4 linked regions of the Homo sapiens genome follow. The protein of the gene in region 1 purifies or fractionates together with the protein of each later gene. This does not show direct contact. Each region holds a gene or a part of one and is shown in the gene's direction. Other genes may lie near its edges.

Region 1 (4,063 bases):
ACCCACTGGTTGGGAAAGTTTCTGTGGATGATTTAAGTCGTTCATTTACTGAGTTCATACTAAGAGTTTCTGCTAATTGCTCTCACTATTCTAGGAGACCCTTATTCAAACCCCCCTTTGTAGGCCTGAAGTCCCCTAATAATTACTGATTTATTGTGCTTTACAATTACTGATTTTTCCTCACTCAAGAAACTAGTGGACTTAGAAAAGCATGCACCTCTCTTAAACGATAGTCTACAAGTTACAATAACACTTAAGACTTCTGAAGTTTCAATGATAAATCTCTGTCCAAAATAGTAACACTTAAGGCAGGTACAGTTGCTCATGCCTGTAATCCCAGCACTTTGGGAAGCCGAGGCGGGAAGATCACTTGAGGCCAGGAATTTGTGACAAACCTAGGCAACATAACAAGACCTCATTTCTACCAAAAAAAAAAAATTTTTTTTTAATTAGCTGGGCATGGTGGCATGTGCCTATAGTCCCAGTTACCCAGGAGGCTGAGGTAAGAGGATTGCTTGAGCACAGGAGTCAAGGCTGCAGTGAGCCATGATGGCAGCACTGCACTCCAGCCTGGATGACAGAACAAGACCCTGTCTCAAAAAAAAAAAAAAAAAAAAGTAACACTCCTGTTACAAGTGAAGAACAGAGAGGGACCTGCATATTGAACCCACTACAGTAAGTTTTCACTGGATCTCAGAACTGCCAATCATTCTCCCAAAGGAGGTGACAAAAAGGCATCAAAACATTTCTGCTGTTTTGGCACAGACCTAGCTCTTTTGTGTCTGCTCTTTTAACACAAGCCTTCCCCTTCCTTCCAAAAGCAGAAAGTCACAATGACTCTAGTATTTTAAAATGAAGAACCCACGTGCGGAGGAGTGAAGCCAATATAGTAATATCTGAATGCCATCTAAAAATGTTTTGAGTGGTAAATAAAGGGGTCATAAAGAATAGCATCTTAACCTGAAATGCCTATGTCCACTACAGGAAAAATTCATGGGAGAAAAGAGGGCAACACATGAAACATGCCTGCACTGGCTCTCATGAGCCTCCCTGTAGATACTTGTGAGAGCCTCCCCAGGTATATCCATCTAGTGGAGTACATGAAACAATAACCATGCCATGACATTCAAATACATACACATCAAAATGTAGTATTGACTCATGGGTCAATTATTTTTATTTTGCTGCTTAAAACTTTTGTTTTCCACATTTTCCTCAAAGTGCATGTTTTTGTTTTTGTTTTTCTTAACTAGAAAAAATATCCCTTACTAACACACTGGGGAATTACAAAGGGGGGGGGGGGAAAGAACAATATCCCTTCTTCAAAAAGTCTTAGTGATTGACCCTGGTAAATAAGTTCCTTTATCTATTAAGTTCTAATATTAAAATGAGGTAGAAATCTTAATGAAACTAACTTTATACAATATTGCTGTCATACTGTGTCATGTTGAATTTTATATTGTTTCTTGTTGATGGATTTTCCCACACTTTTGAAATCTTTATACCTGGTTATATGTAGCTTTTTCATTTACAGTTGATAAAATATATTATCAGTCTGTAAATTCCCATTTATCATGTGTCTTAGCTTTTTTCCCTAGACCTAGGATGGCACCTGGCACACAGTAGGTACTTATATTCATATAGGTTCTGAAATTAATGAATGGTTTTTATATACTGAAGTAACTGATTTAAAACACCAGTTCCAGGAATACATCCTGTTATACACCTAAGGGCTACTTCTCAAAGGAAAGTGGAAATGTCCATCAACTGATTACTTCTTCCGTCTCATTACACAGGGGGCACAGTTTCTAACAGAGCTTGCACCTCTCTGTAAGATTTACTGCTCAGATGGTGAAGAATATACTGTGTCTAGGTGAGTAACTTTTTAGCCACCATTTAGGAGACCAAAGGGAGGTAATTTTTTTTCTTAGAAACAATTTTTTTTAACTAAGTAAACATGCTGAAATCTTAAATTTTTTTAATAGTTGTGTTAGAGGACGTTTGATGGAAGTGAATGAAAACATCCTCCATAAGCCATCTATTCTTCAAGAAAAGGTAAAAGAGAGAGAAAAAATATGATCTCATCCACATACCTTTTATTGGTTTTTTTTTCATCGTTTGACAGTACTAAATGTTCTTTCCTTTCCAGCCATCTACTGAAGGCTACATTGCAGTTGTGTTACCCAAATTTGAAGAAAGTAAAAGCATAACAGAAGGGTTACTGACACAAAAACAATATGAAGAAGTCATGGTGAAACGCATTAATGCCACAACAGCTACGTCATGAGGATTGACATGGAACAAAAAGCAAAGTGGGATTCTTGTTACCTGGCCTAAACCATCAGGGTACTAAAGGAGAAGAACCAGTATATGTAAAGCATACCTAACAGCCAGCCATATGCAGGGGAGGCCTAGTGCTTCACTTAGTTTTCCCTCTCTGTCTTCATAATGAGCCTTGGTTCCCATTTGTCTACAGCCTGCCAGATCTGGCCTGCCCATGTACTCACACTGTTCTCTTGCATCTCTCTAACAACTGGCATGCAAGGCATGTTTTTCTGATTAAAAACAAACAAAGCTCTTTGAAGAAGATTTAGAAAATACAGAAGAGTTTTAAGTAGCCAAGTAAAAATAATTTACCCATCATCCCATAATCCAGAAGTAAATACATTTGACCCTTGAGCAACATAGGTTTGAACTGCAAGGGTCCACTTATGCATGGACTATTTTCAACTATAAACGAGTCAAAAATATATCATTAACCAAACACGAAACCCACTTATAGAGCAGGTTCATATACTCAGGTTCCAAAGGGCCAACTGCAGGACTTGAGTTCTCACGTATGGATTTGGGTATATGTGGAAGTTCCTGGAACCAATCCCCTATGTAAACCAAGGGATAACTACTACATTTTAACCTACTTCTGTTTGAACATATGGTATGGTTATTGCTTTTGCCTCGTTTTCCTAACAGTTTGAAGTTTAAAAAAACCTAACCCACCTTTCTTACCCAGTCTTCTATAATGTGCCTACCAAAAAGCCTAGTCCTAGCCCATCTGCCTCAACTCCTCTCCCTTTTAGGTTGTAGGGAAGAGGCCGGAGTGTAGAGTATATTATATCTTCTGTCCCCCTTATGCCAACAAGATGGCCTTCCCCTCTGAAACAAAGTAAAACTGCAACACTGTGACTTCTTAAATGAGGGATATGTGAAAAGGCTATGAAAAATACAAAGGCTTTCCTAGGAAATGTGTTATAATGCAGCGGGAAGCTAATTCTTGAAATATGCACATTATAGTTACTCAGTCTCACATACTCTAGTTACTGGCAAAGAAGTTACTGAGAATATGTCATTCAAAGGCATAGGGGCCTTTGAATGGAACAAATGCTTTCACATCATTTAAAGTAAAAAAAAACCTCCAACAACTGTGAATTTATAGTTTAAGAGTGATTTACACTGAATTTCAAATAAAAGGACTATAAAACGTGTTATTTTTCTGTAAGGGCTATAACATACATGTCAATATCACTGTTTTTAAATAAAATATACTTTTATACAGAAGAAATCATTCGATGTATTAATTCCATTGGTTATCTATCCTCTTATGCTGTTGAAGTCATAAGTTACCCCTTCCCAACCCCCACTTGCTCTTTCTTTCACTAGAGAACAGTATTTTTTCAGGTATGCAAAAATATTATCTAATGAAAGTACAAGTGGGGGTTGGAATTTTTAAGTTTTAATTATTTACAAAATAATACTTACTTATTTTGTAAATAAAACAACATTTTGGTTCATAGGAAAAACTTGTAATCTGAGTGCCAGCATGACTATCCCCCTAAATATACCCCCCAGACATGATACATGTAGTAAGTGGATAAACACCTCCACGATGGTGCTATTAGCTGAAAATATAAACAAACCAGCAGATCCTCACTTTAAGTAGCACAATGACTCTTGAAGGCGTCATAAAACTATGACAGTAAACGTAGTAAAAGAATTGTGTATAACATTTTACATGTAACATTACCTCACATCATTCTCCCATTATTTCTATTGTAATTTAAAAGAG
Region 2 (3,508 bases), on another chromosome or scaffold:
CTGTTTCGAAGGGCTGCTCTGAAATCATAGTGATGGAGGACCAGCTTTGGACAAGGCACTTAACCTTGCTGAGCCTGTTTCTTTATCTGTAAGATAGGGGAAATCATAGTACTTGCTTCATAAGGTTGTAGTGAGGACTGAATAGAGATAATGCACGTAAGGTACTCAGTAAATGTTATTTGTACCCTGCAAATGTCCTGTACCTGTGTGTGATGCTTATGCAGTTGGACAGGACAAGTAAGGTGGCCCAGAGCACAGAGAGGCCCTCATAGCCAGATGCCATTTATATCCCTATTCTTCCCATTCTAGATCTCCCCCTGACTTTTTTGAGAGTGACTTTGCGGGCTCCTCTGGGCCAGTACCCACTTCTAACAATGGACGGATTTCCACCGCCTCCGGCCTGGCCATTTCCTGTTCTCTTCCAGGGTGTGAGAGGTTGAGGGAGGAGGGGGCCTCAGCGCCAAGGGGAACAGAAAGGTGCCTGGAAACAGTTGGGGTATAGGACTTATGGGACAGGACACTTGGGGCTCTGGAGTGCTGGCTGGGAAGCAGAATGTTTTATCCTTGAGGGGAGATACAGGGGCTATAGGGAAATGAGAACTTGTTGAGCACTGAAGGGGGTGGTGAGGATACTTAGCTTCCCAGAATCTTCCTAGCAGTTTTAGGGACTCCAGGGACCCAGCCCGCGTGATCTGGTTGCCAGGGCAACTTCATTTTTTGGAGCTTTGATGTTGTTCCTAATCTCCCCCTCCCCTTCCTCAGCAGTGCCTCCTCCTCATCAGGGAATGAGGGGAGGAGATGGCAGAAACTTGATGGGTCCCTTCCTCTCCCTGAAGGCTCAATCCTTGATCTCTAAGGGTCCCATTTCCATTCCTCAGGCCAGGCCCCACTCTCAGGGCCCCCAGGGGCCACCATGCCAGCTGGGGGCCGGGCCGGGAGCCTGAAGGACCCAGATGTGGCTGAGCTCTTCTTCAAGGATGACCCAGAAAAGCTCTTCTCTGACCTCCGGGAAATTGGCCATGGCAGCTTTGGAGCCGTATACTTTGTGAGTTGGGTCTTGGGAGGGTGTAATAGGGATGGGGACTCTTCCTATCCCTGTGGACTTCCCAACAGCCCTTGCACACTACTCCATCACACTGGTCTTTCCTGCCTTCTCTTGCTGGGCCAGCAAGTCTTCCCATGCCCGGCTCTCAATGGGGCCTTCAACACCTTCTGGTCTGGTCCTCTAGGCCCGGGATGTCCGGAATAGTGAGGTGGTGGCCATCAAGAAGATGTCCTACAGTGGGAAGCAGTCCAATGAGGTGGGCCAGGTGCAATACAGCCAGGTTGGGGACAGGGGACTCCTGTCTCAAGATGCAAGCTGGGTAACCTCTGCCTACCCTGACCCCCTAGAAATGGCAAGACATCATCAAGGAGGTGCGGTTCTTACAGAAGCTCCGGCATCCCAACACCATTCAGTACCGGGGCTGTTACCTGAGGGAGCACACGGCTTGGGTGAGCTGGTGCCAGATTCTGGCCTGATCTTTACTCCTATTCATGCCCGTCCTTATCGTAGTCCAGTCTCTTAGGTGGTCCCTGTTCGTGGTGCTGTTGTGGGATCTTGGGAAGGAGGAAGTCTCTTTTGACCGCTTTAGTCCTCAGACATACCCACTGAGCAAAAGCCTGGCTCAGTGACACAGGCTGTTAGCAGGTGGGACAGGTCACTGTGGGCTGGAGAAGGTGGAGATTGAATGGGAGTTTGAAGGGATTCAGATGGGCAGTGGTGAATGTCTTGGGCCCAGACTCTAGAAACTCTCCCACCACCCCCTCATTGTCTCCAGTTGCGCTTCCTCCCTGTCATCACCCCGGGGACATAGCTTGAGTACAGGACAGTCAAGGAAGCTCTGTTTTGAGTCCCTGCCCAGGAGACTCTGATCTCTGACCCTTGTCTCTTCCTTAGCTGGTAATGGAGTATTGCCTGGGCTCAGCTTCTGACCTTCTAGAAGGTAAGTGACTGATAGGCCAATAAGTGGAGAAGGGAGAAGAGCAGGGGAGCCATAGGGAAGGGTTAAGGGGAGTTTATTCCAGTCCCACCCTTGCGCTCCCTCGGGTTGATGTTCTTCCTCACTCTCCAGTGCACAAGAAACCCCTTCAGGAGGTAGAGATCGCAGCTGTGACCCACGGGGCGCTTCAGGGCCTGGCATATCTGCACTCCCACAACATGATCCATAGGTACAAGCAGCACCGGCAGTGCCTGGGAGGGGAGTGCTATCTGCACCACCTGTCACTTAGCTGGGCTGCCCCTGCCTAGCTTTCTTGAGACACATGTCTCATCCCTGTACTTTGCCTCTGGCAGGGATGTGAAGGCTGGAAACATCCTGCTGTCAGAGCCAGGGTTAGTGAAGCTAGGGGACTTTGGTTCTGCGTCCATCATGGCACCTGCCAACTCCTTCGTGGGCACCCCATACTGGTGAGTGAGTGAGTGGTGGTGAGTGGAGAGACCTCCCAGGGATGTTGGGAGTAGGAGTGACAGGGTCTCGGCGGGTGATTTGCCTCTCTCTCCTGACCATTCTCCTAGGATGGCACCCGAGGTGATCCTGGCCATGGATGAGGGGCAGTACGATGGCAAAGTGGACGTCTGGTCCTTGGGGATAACCTGCATCGAGCTGGGTAAGAACATCCTCCCTGTTCCCTCATCATCTTTTCCATTCTTTCCTGTTAGTTCCCAGACTCCGGACTACCCCCTTCTCCTAGGGATGGGATCCCAGGCCTCCAAGTTCCTGTCCGTTGTGACTCTACCCTGGAGCCCAATACAGGCAGCTGGCAAATTCTGCCAGCTCTTAGGCCTAGAGATTTTGTAGCATTCATCTCTTCCTGTCCACTACCCTGGTTCTGAATCTTTTCTTAGTGCCCACCATGTGCTGTGCCATGGACTGTGATTCTGGAGGGATAGCAGTGAATGAAAATCCTGCCCTCATGGAACTTACATTTGATTTAGGGAAACCAGGCAGGCATGTTTTCTTTCAATGTGATGAACGCTGTGTGGAGAAGTTACAGGAGCGGTTCAAATGTAAAACAGGGGACTTGACCTAGTTTAGGGGCTGAAGAAGGCCTCCTTGTAGGAGAATATTGAAGCCAACCTGCAAGATAAATAATAGCTGTTTGCAGAATGTAGGGAAGAGCTTTCCAGGCAGAGAGAACAGCATGTGAGAGGCCTAGAGGTAAGTGCAGGCCTGGGGAACTGGGACTAGCTTCAGTTATTTGGAACCTAGCATGTAATGCAGAGAATATTGAAGGATAAGGCCAGAGAGTTAGGTCCAAGTGAGTTCCTAAGGCCTTGAAGCCATGCCAAGGTTCTCATCTCTGTCAGCCAGCACTATTGAAACAATTCTTTAATGAGGTAGGTAACCTTTATAAGGCTTCCAACACAATGCCAGGCACAAAACAGTTGCCTAAGAGTTGCTGTTAGTTTCTCTTATCAACAGCCTCCTGCAGTGATCTCTCCAGTCTCTTCTCCCTTCCAGTCTGT
Region 3 (3,508 bases), on another chromosome or scaffold:
TTCTTCTAATGTTTTTGGTGTCCCATTGTTTTACTTTTTTTGATAGCCATGTTTGTCAAGTAGAATGTAGACTTCTCAGTAAATTCACACAATATCATTAAAATATGTCCAGGTAGTCTGCAGTGAGGCATTATTTATCATAGCTACCCTCTTCTCCCTTTTCACAAAAAAAGAACATTCTTATAGTAGTAGGGACCCTGACAAAATAATTTATAGTATAAATACATACTTGATTTTGAAATAATTTGATGAAACAATGTATACATATTTAAAATCCTCTGGGCATTGGATATTTTCATTTTTTTATTTTTTATTTTATTTTTATTATTTTTTGAGACAGAATCTCCCTCTGTCGCCCAGGCTGGAGTGCAGTGGTGTGATCTCAGCTCACTGCAACCTCTGCTCTCCAAGTTCAAACAATTCTCCTGCCTCAGCCTCCCAAGTAGCTGAGACTACAGGTGCATCTACCATGCCTGGCTAATTTTTCATCTACCATGCCTGGCTAATTTTTGTATTATTTTTATTTTAGTAGAAAAGGGGTTTCACCATGTTAATCAGGCTGGTCTCAAATCCCTGACCTCAGGTGACCTTCCTGCCTCGGCCTCCCAAAGTGCTGGGATTATAGATGTGAGCCACCACACTTGATAGATATTATTTTTAATAGCTTGGGAAAAGGCGATACTAACATATTTAGGAAAACAATTCCTGAAGCAGATATGCAATGTGGTAACAAATTTGTTTTAAAAGTATATAACCAGGATGGGTGCAGTGGCTCACACCTGTAATCCCACCACTTTGGGAGGCCGAGGTGAGAAGATTACTTGAGCCCAGGAGTTCAAGACCAGCCTGGGCAACATGGGAAGACTCTGTCTCCACACACAAAAAAAATAAATTAGCTGAGCAGGGTGGCATACGCCTTTAGTTCCAGCTACTCAGGAGGCTGAGGTGGGAAGATCACTTGAGCTCAGGAGGAGGCTGCAATGAGCCATGATTGTACCACTGCACTCCAGCCTGGGTGACAGAGTGAGACCCTGTAACATATTTTTTGAGACAGGCACTCGCCCTGTTACCCAGCTGGTCTTGAACTCCTGGGCTCAGGTGATCCTCCCACCTCAGCCTCTCAAAGTGTTGGGATTACAGGTATGAGCCACAATACCTACTTAATTATATACATGCAAATATATGTGTGTATGTGTATGTGTGTGTGTTTGAGACATGAACATTTATAGAAAAAATTAGAGGCCGGGCATGGTGGCTCACGCCTGTAATCCCAGCACTTTGGGAGGCCGAGGTGGGTGGATCACCTGAGCTCAGGAGTTCAAGACCAGCTTGGCCAACATGGCAAAACCCCATCTCTTCTAAAAATACAAAAATTAGCCAGGCGTGGTGTCACACACCCGTAGTCACAGCTACTTGGGAGGCTGAGGCAGGAGAATCACTTGAACCCGGGAAGCGGAGGTTGCAGTGAGCCGAGCTCGTGCCACTGCACTGCAGCCAGGGTAACAGAGCAAGACTCCATCTCAAAAATAATAATTTTAAAAAAAGAAAAAATTGCAAAAGATATGCACCAAAATGTTTACATTGGTTATCTCTGGATGCCAAAATTATGTAAGATGTTTCTTGTTTTTCTGTATTTTGTAAATATTCTACAATGAACATGTATTGCATATAGAATCAGAAATAAAATATAGCATTTGTTTTGTTTTACTGAGGGATTGAGGGTTGGGAGGAAGGTATACTTCTGTTAAATGAAATAAAAAGTTGACAACATTTTTGACCCTGTAAGAGATCAACATTTCAAAGATGAGTTTCATCTTACTGATTCTATGAAGTTCAAATTATAAGGATGCCAAGTAGCACATGTTTATAATTTGGTTCAGTCTTTTATTTTGGTAATGTTTCTAATGATTTCTTGTTCTTAGAAAATAAAAGGTATTCTTAATGATGTATATTAAACCACTACTTTATCTACTTAACTAAATTTGATTCATTTTTTAAACTTCATATAGGCTAAAGTGATGTCCAATGAAGAGAAAAAATTTCAGCAACATATTCAGGCCCAACAGAAGAAAGAACTGAATAGTTTTCTCGAGTCCCAGAAAAGAGAGTATAAACTTCGAAAAGAGCAGCTTAAAGAGGTACTTATGTCATAAAACTTTCCAAGCAAATTTTCTGCTTATTAATTATATCCAATGGTGACCAACTCATAGAAGCATTAGGATAAAATTATCTTTTGTTGTTTATGGTCACTAAATGGGTATTAGTTTAAATGATGACATTGATTATAATCAGTTACCCTTAACTGAGTCATTTAGTTGAGTAGGATTTAAAATGAATCATTTCCTGAAAATATACTTTTTTTATGTTTTTATTTTATATTTATTTATTTATTTTTGAGACAAAGAGTCTCGCTCTGTCACCCAGGCTCGAGTGCAGTGGCGCGCTCTCGGCTCACTTCAAGCTCTGCCTACTGGGTTCACACCATTCTCCTGCCTCAGCCTCCCTAGTAGCTGGGACTACAGGCGCCCACCACCACACCCGGCAAACATTTGGTATTTTTTTTAGTAGAGACGGGGTTTCACCATGTTAGCCAGGATGGTCTCGATCTCCTGACCTTGTGATCCGCCTGCCTCGGCCTCCCAAAGTGCTAGGATTACAGGCATGAGCCATCGTGCCTGGCCTTATGTTTTTATTTTTTGTGTGTATTTTTTGAGACAGTCTTATTCTGTTCCACGGGCTGGAGTGCAGTGGCACAATCATAGCTCACTGCAGCTTCGACCTCCCGTGCTCAAGCAATCCTGCTTTAGCCTTCCAAGTAGCTGGGAACACAAGCACACACCACCACTCCTGGCTGATTTTTAAATTTATTTTTTGTAGAGACAGGGTCTTGCCATGTTGCCTAGTCTGGTCTCAAACTCCTGGGCTCAAGCAGTCCGCCTACCTCGGCTTCCCAAAGTGCTGGGATTATAGGCATAAGCCACCGCACCTGATCACATTTATTACTTTAAAAGTAAACAATAATGTCTTACTTTTGGATCAGAAGATTATAATAATTTGTTTTTATGCCAATTTAAATGTAGAATAAGGGAGATATTTGCTTATCAGGTTTTTTTTAAGTAGAATATGCTGATTATTTCTTTGTGGCTACAGGGTTTCATATTTGTTTGCCCTTTCTTGTGCTGCCCGGCCTCCCCCCTACCCCCCGCTTTTTTTTTGAGACGGAAGTCTCACTCTGTCATACAGGCTGGAGTGCAGTGGTGTGATCTTGGCTCACTGCAGCCTCCCCTCCCCCCAGGTTGAAAGGATTCTCCTGCCTCAACCCCCCCGAGTAGCTGGGATTACAGGTGTGTGCCACCATGCCTGGCTAATTTGTATATATTTTTTTAGTAGAGACGGGGTTTCACCATGTTAGCCAGGCTGGTTTCAAACTCCTGACCTCAGACAATCTACCCACCTCGGCCCCCCAAAGTGCTGGGATTACAAGAGTTAGCCACCACTCCCGGCTCTT
Region 4 (3,508 bases), on another chromosome or scaffold:
TATACTGAAAATTATAGCACATTGATGAAAGAAATTGAAAGTGACAAATAGAAAAAGTCCTATATCAATTGAAAAAATTAATATTGTCAAAATTTCAATGCTACTCAAAGCATTCTACAGATTAAATGCAACCGCTGTCAAATTCCAATGTCATTCTTCACAGAAATAGAAAAATTAGTCCTAAAATCTGAATGGAACCACAAAAGATGCTGAAAAACGAAAGCAATCTTTAGCAAAAAGAACAAACCTGGAGGCATCAGACTACCTAATCTTTGACAAAGCAAACAAGAAAATGGGAAAGGACACCCTATTCAACATATGCTGCTGGTATAATTGGCAAGCCACATGCAGAAAAATGAAGCCGTTCTTCAAAGGTTAAATACAGAATTACCACATGACTCAGTAAATTCACTCCTATGTATACACCAAAAATAAATTAAAACAAATGCCTTACACATAAAAGTATTTATAGCAACAAAAAGTAGGAAACAACAGAAATGTCCATGAATTTTGGAGTGGATTAATAAAATGTGGTCTGTCCATAAAATAAAATATTACTTGGCAATGAAAAAGAAAAACATATTAATACATGCTCCAAAAAGGATGAACATTGAAAACATGATAAATGAAAGTAGTAAGTCACACGTAACTATATTATTATGATTCCACTTACATGAAATGTCCAGAATAGGCAAATCCTTCCAGAATAGGCAAATTCTTAGGTAATAGATGGATGATTGCCTAGGGCTGGGAGAGGTTTAAAGGAAGAATGGGGAAAATAGGGAAAGATTGCTAATGGGTGCAAAGTTTCTTTTAAGGAGCATAAAAATGTTCTAAAATCATGGTGATTGTTTAACTAGTTAATACACTTAAAAAACTGAATTTTATACTTTAAATGAGTGAATTAAATAATATATAAATTGTATCTCAATGAACCTGTGAAAAAAGTTAAAAAATATGTGGTATGCATAAACAAAAAGTTCTTCATTTTATTTCCTAGGGTTTTGGGGAAAAGGTGGTGTTTGATTATATGAGTAAGTTCTTTAGAGGTGATTCAGGAGATTTTGGTGCACCCAACACCTGTGCAGTATACACTGTATACACTGCACCGGGGCAGGAGCTGGCTGCAATCCTGTGGCCCCAAATGCCCCCTTGCTGATGGCCTCGTGTTCTGGGTGCGGAGCAAAGAGGAGCAGGTGTTGAAGGCACCTCAGGCAGGCCCTGGGCTCGGTGGGCGTCTTGTGCTCCGCGATTTTGAGGCCATTTGCAGCCAGCTCCGTCAGCCCGAGCTCCCAGCTGCAGCTGCTGCCATGCACAACAGCACCGCCAGGAGTGTCCTGGGGGCTTTTTTCAAAGGAGGCTGTCAGCATCCTCAAGTTCCAGACGCTTAGCCCCAGTCCTCCTTTAAGAGGCTTTTTTTTTTTCACCAGAGGCTTCTCAGTGGCTTGAAAGCTCAGCTGACTCCCACGAAGTTTGCCGGAACTCAAGGCTGTCAGTGACATTCGTGGCGCCAAGACTTAAGCAGGCGCGTTGCATGCATCGGCCAGTGTCTGTGCCACGTGCCCTGACGCCACCTGAGATAAGCACGCCGCACGCGCACGCGCACGCCGCGCGCACACGCCCGGCAGCAGCTTGGCTGGCTTGTAACGGCTTGCACGCGCACGCCGCACGCGCATAACGGTTTGGCCGGCCTGTAACGGCTTGCACGCGCACGCCGCACGCGCGTAACGGCTTGGCTGGCCTGTAATGGCTTGCACGCGCATGCTGCACGCGCTTTAACGGCTTGGCTGGCCTGTAGCGGCTTGGCTTGGCTTTGCGTTCTTGGCTTGGCTTGGCGTTGGTAGCTTGGATTGACGTTTCCTGCTTGGATTGACGTTTTCTCTCTCGTGTTCCTTTGCTGGGCTTGACCTTTTCTCTGCTGGGTTTGGCATTCCCTTGGGTGGGCTGGGTGTTTTCTTGGGGGCGGGGGTTGGCCCTTTCTGGGGTGGGCGTGGGGTCGCCCAGGGGGGGCGTGGGCTTTCCTCGGGTGGGTGTGGGTTTTCCCTGGGTGGGGTGGGCTGGGCTGGAATCCCCTGCTGGGGTTGGCAGGTTTTGGCTGGGATTGACTTTTCTCTTCAAACAGATTGGAAACCCGGAGTTACCTGCTAGTTGGTGAAACTGGTTGGTAGACGCGATCTGTTGGCTACTACTGGCTTCTCCTGGCTGTTAAAAGCAGATGGTGGTTGAGGTTGATTCCATGCCGGCTGCCTCTTCTGTGAAGAAGCCATTTGGTCTCAGGAGCAAGATGGGCAAGTGGTGCTGCCGTTGCTTCCCCTGCTGCAGGGAGAGCGGCAAGAGCAACGTGGGCACTTCTGGAGACCACGACGACTCTGCTATGAAGACACTCAGGAGCAAGATGGGCAAGTGGTGCCGCCACTGCTTCCCCTGCTGCAGGGGGAGTGGCAAGAGCAACGTGGGCGCTTCTGGAGACCACGACGACTCTGCTATGAAGACACTCAGGAACAAGATGGGCAAGTGGTGCTGCCACTGCTTCCCCTGCTGCAGGGGGAGCAGCAAGAGCAAGGTGGGCGCTTGGGGAGACTACGATGACAGTGCCTTCATGGAGCCCAGGTACCACGTCCGTGGAGAAGATCTGGACAAGCTCCACAGAGCTGCCTGGTGGGGTAAAGTCCCCAGAAAGGATCTCATCGTCATGCTCAGGGACACTGACGTGAACAAGCAGGACAAGCAAAAGAGGTAACCAGGCCTGGGCTGGGAGGAGGTGGGACGTGGGGGGATGATGGGGACATACCCTCCTGGCGGGGGAGGAGGGGGACCTGGCTTTCTCGCCTCCGCAGGCCTCACACCACCCTGGATGTGGAAACCTCAGAGAGGTCAGGGTACAGGGCCCTTTATGAACAGCAACACAAAAACAAAACTTTAGCTGATTTCCAATCATAATTTCCCTCATAGAACACTAATAGACTGTTTTAAAGTGATTTAACTTGCAAAATTAATTAAGTCAATGCAGCAGATTATTTTTAATCTACAGATTTTAAAACAATGTTCTATACATTATAGAAAAGTGTATATTGAGAACTAAGAACGAAGCCCCATAACACATCAACTTCAGGGCTAAATATTCTTCAAATAAAATCCAGTATGGATTTTATATCAATGTACAGTATGTAAATATGTTCTTTACTGAGGAACCTTAGAAGGAAACTGAAATGGGAAGATGGTTCCTGTGCTTGAACAGGAAGATTGAATTTTCTTAAGATGTGAGCTTTTTGGCTGGGCGCGGTGGCTCACGCCTGTAATCCCAGCACTTTGGGAGGCGGGCGGATCATGAGGTCAGGAGATTGAGACCATCCTGGCTAACACGGTGAAACCCTGTCTCTACTAAAAAATATAAAAAAAATTAGCCGGGTGCGGTGGTAGACGCCTGTAGTCCCGGCTACTCAGGAGGCTGAGGCAGGAGAATGGCGTGAACCCGGGAGGTGGAGCTTGCAGTGAGCCGAGATAGTGC

The links. Proteins that work in one complex are often made in the same cells at the same time.
Region 2: the proteins of ABITRAM (region 1) and TAOK2 purify together in Homo sapiens (affinity purification with mass spectrometry; 2 studies listed by BioGRID and IntAct, with this or other methods). This does not show direct contact.
Region 3: the proteins of ABITRAM (region 1) and TAOK1 purify together in Homo sapiens (affinity purification with mass spectrometry; 2 studies listed by BioGRID and IntAct, with this or other methods). This does not show direct contact.
Region 4: the proteins of ABITRAM (region 1) and POTEF purify together in Homo sapiens (affinity purification with mass spectrometry; 2 studies listed by BioGRID and IntAct, with this or other methods). This does not show direct contact.

Annotation. Positions count from the first base shown.
Region 1 is NC_000009.12:108,937,400-108,941,462, forward strand, and holds the end of ABITRAM (protein Abitram), read left to right. Parts: intron 1-1,796; coding exon 1,797-1,873; intron 1,874-1,985; coding exon 1,986-2,055; intron 2,056-2,149; coding exon 2,150-2,287; 3' UTR 2,288-3,555; downstream 3,556-4,063. UniProt on the Homo sapiens protein: Actin-binding protein that regulates actin polymerization, filopodia dynamics and increases the branching of proximal dendrites of developing neurons.
Region 2 is NC_000016.10:29,976,860-29,980,367, forward strand, and holds part of TAOK2 (serine/threonine-protein kinase TAO2), read left to right. Parts: intron 1-878; 5' UTR 879-913; coding exon 914-1,045; intron 1,046-1,229; coding exon 1,230-1,301; intron 1,302-1,392; coding exon 1,393-1,494; intron 1,495-1,939; coding exon 1,940-1,985; intron 1,986-2,114; coding exon 2,115-2,211; intron 2,212-2,335; coding exon 2,336-2,449; intron 2,450-2,557; coding exon 2,558-2,649; intron 2,650-3,508. UniProt on the Homo sapiens protein: Serine/threonine-protein kinase involved in different processes such as membrane blebbing and apoptotic bodies formation DNA damage response and MAPK14/p38 MAPK stress-activated MAPK cascade.
Region 3 is NC_000017.11:29,508,855-29,512,362, forward strand, and holds part of TAOK1 (serine/threonine-protein kinase TAO1), read left to right. Parts: intron 1-2,009; coding exon 2,010-2,138; intron 2,139-3,508. UniProt on the Homo sapiens protein: Serine/threonine-protein kinase involved in various processes such as p38/MAPK14 stress-activated MAPK cascade, DNA damage response and regulation of cytoskeleton stability. Phosphorylates MAP2K3, MAP2K6 and MARK2.
Region 4 is NC_000002.12:130,119,223-130,122,730, reverse strand, and holds part of POTEF (POTE ankyrin domain family member F), read left to right. Parts: intron 1-1,432; exon of another isoform or gene 1,433-2,122; 5' UTR 2,123-2,215; coding exon 2,216-2,736; intron 2,737-3,508.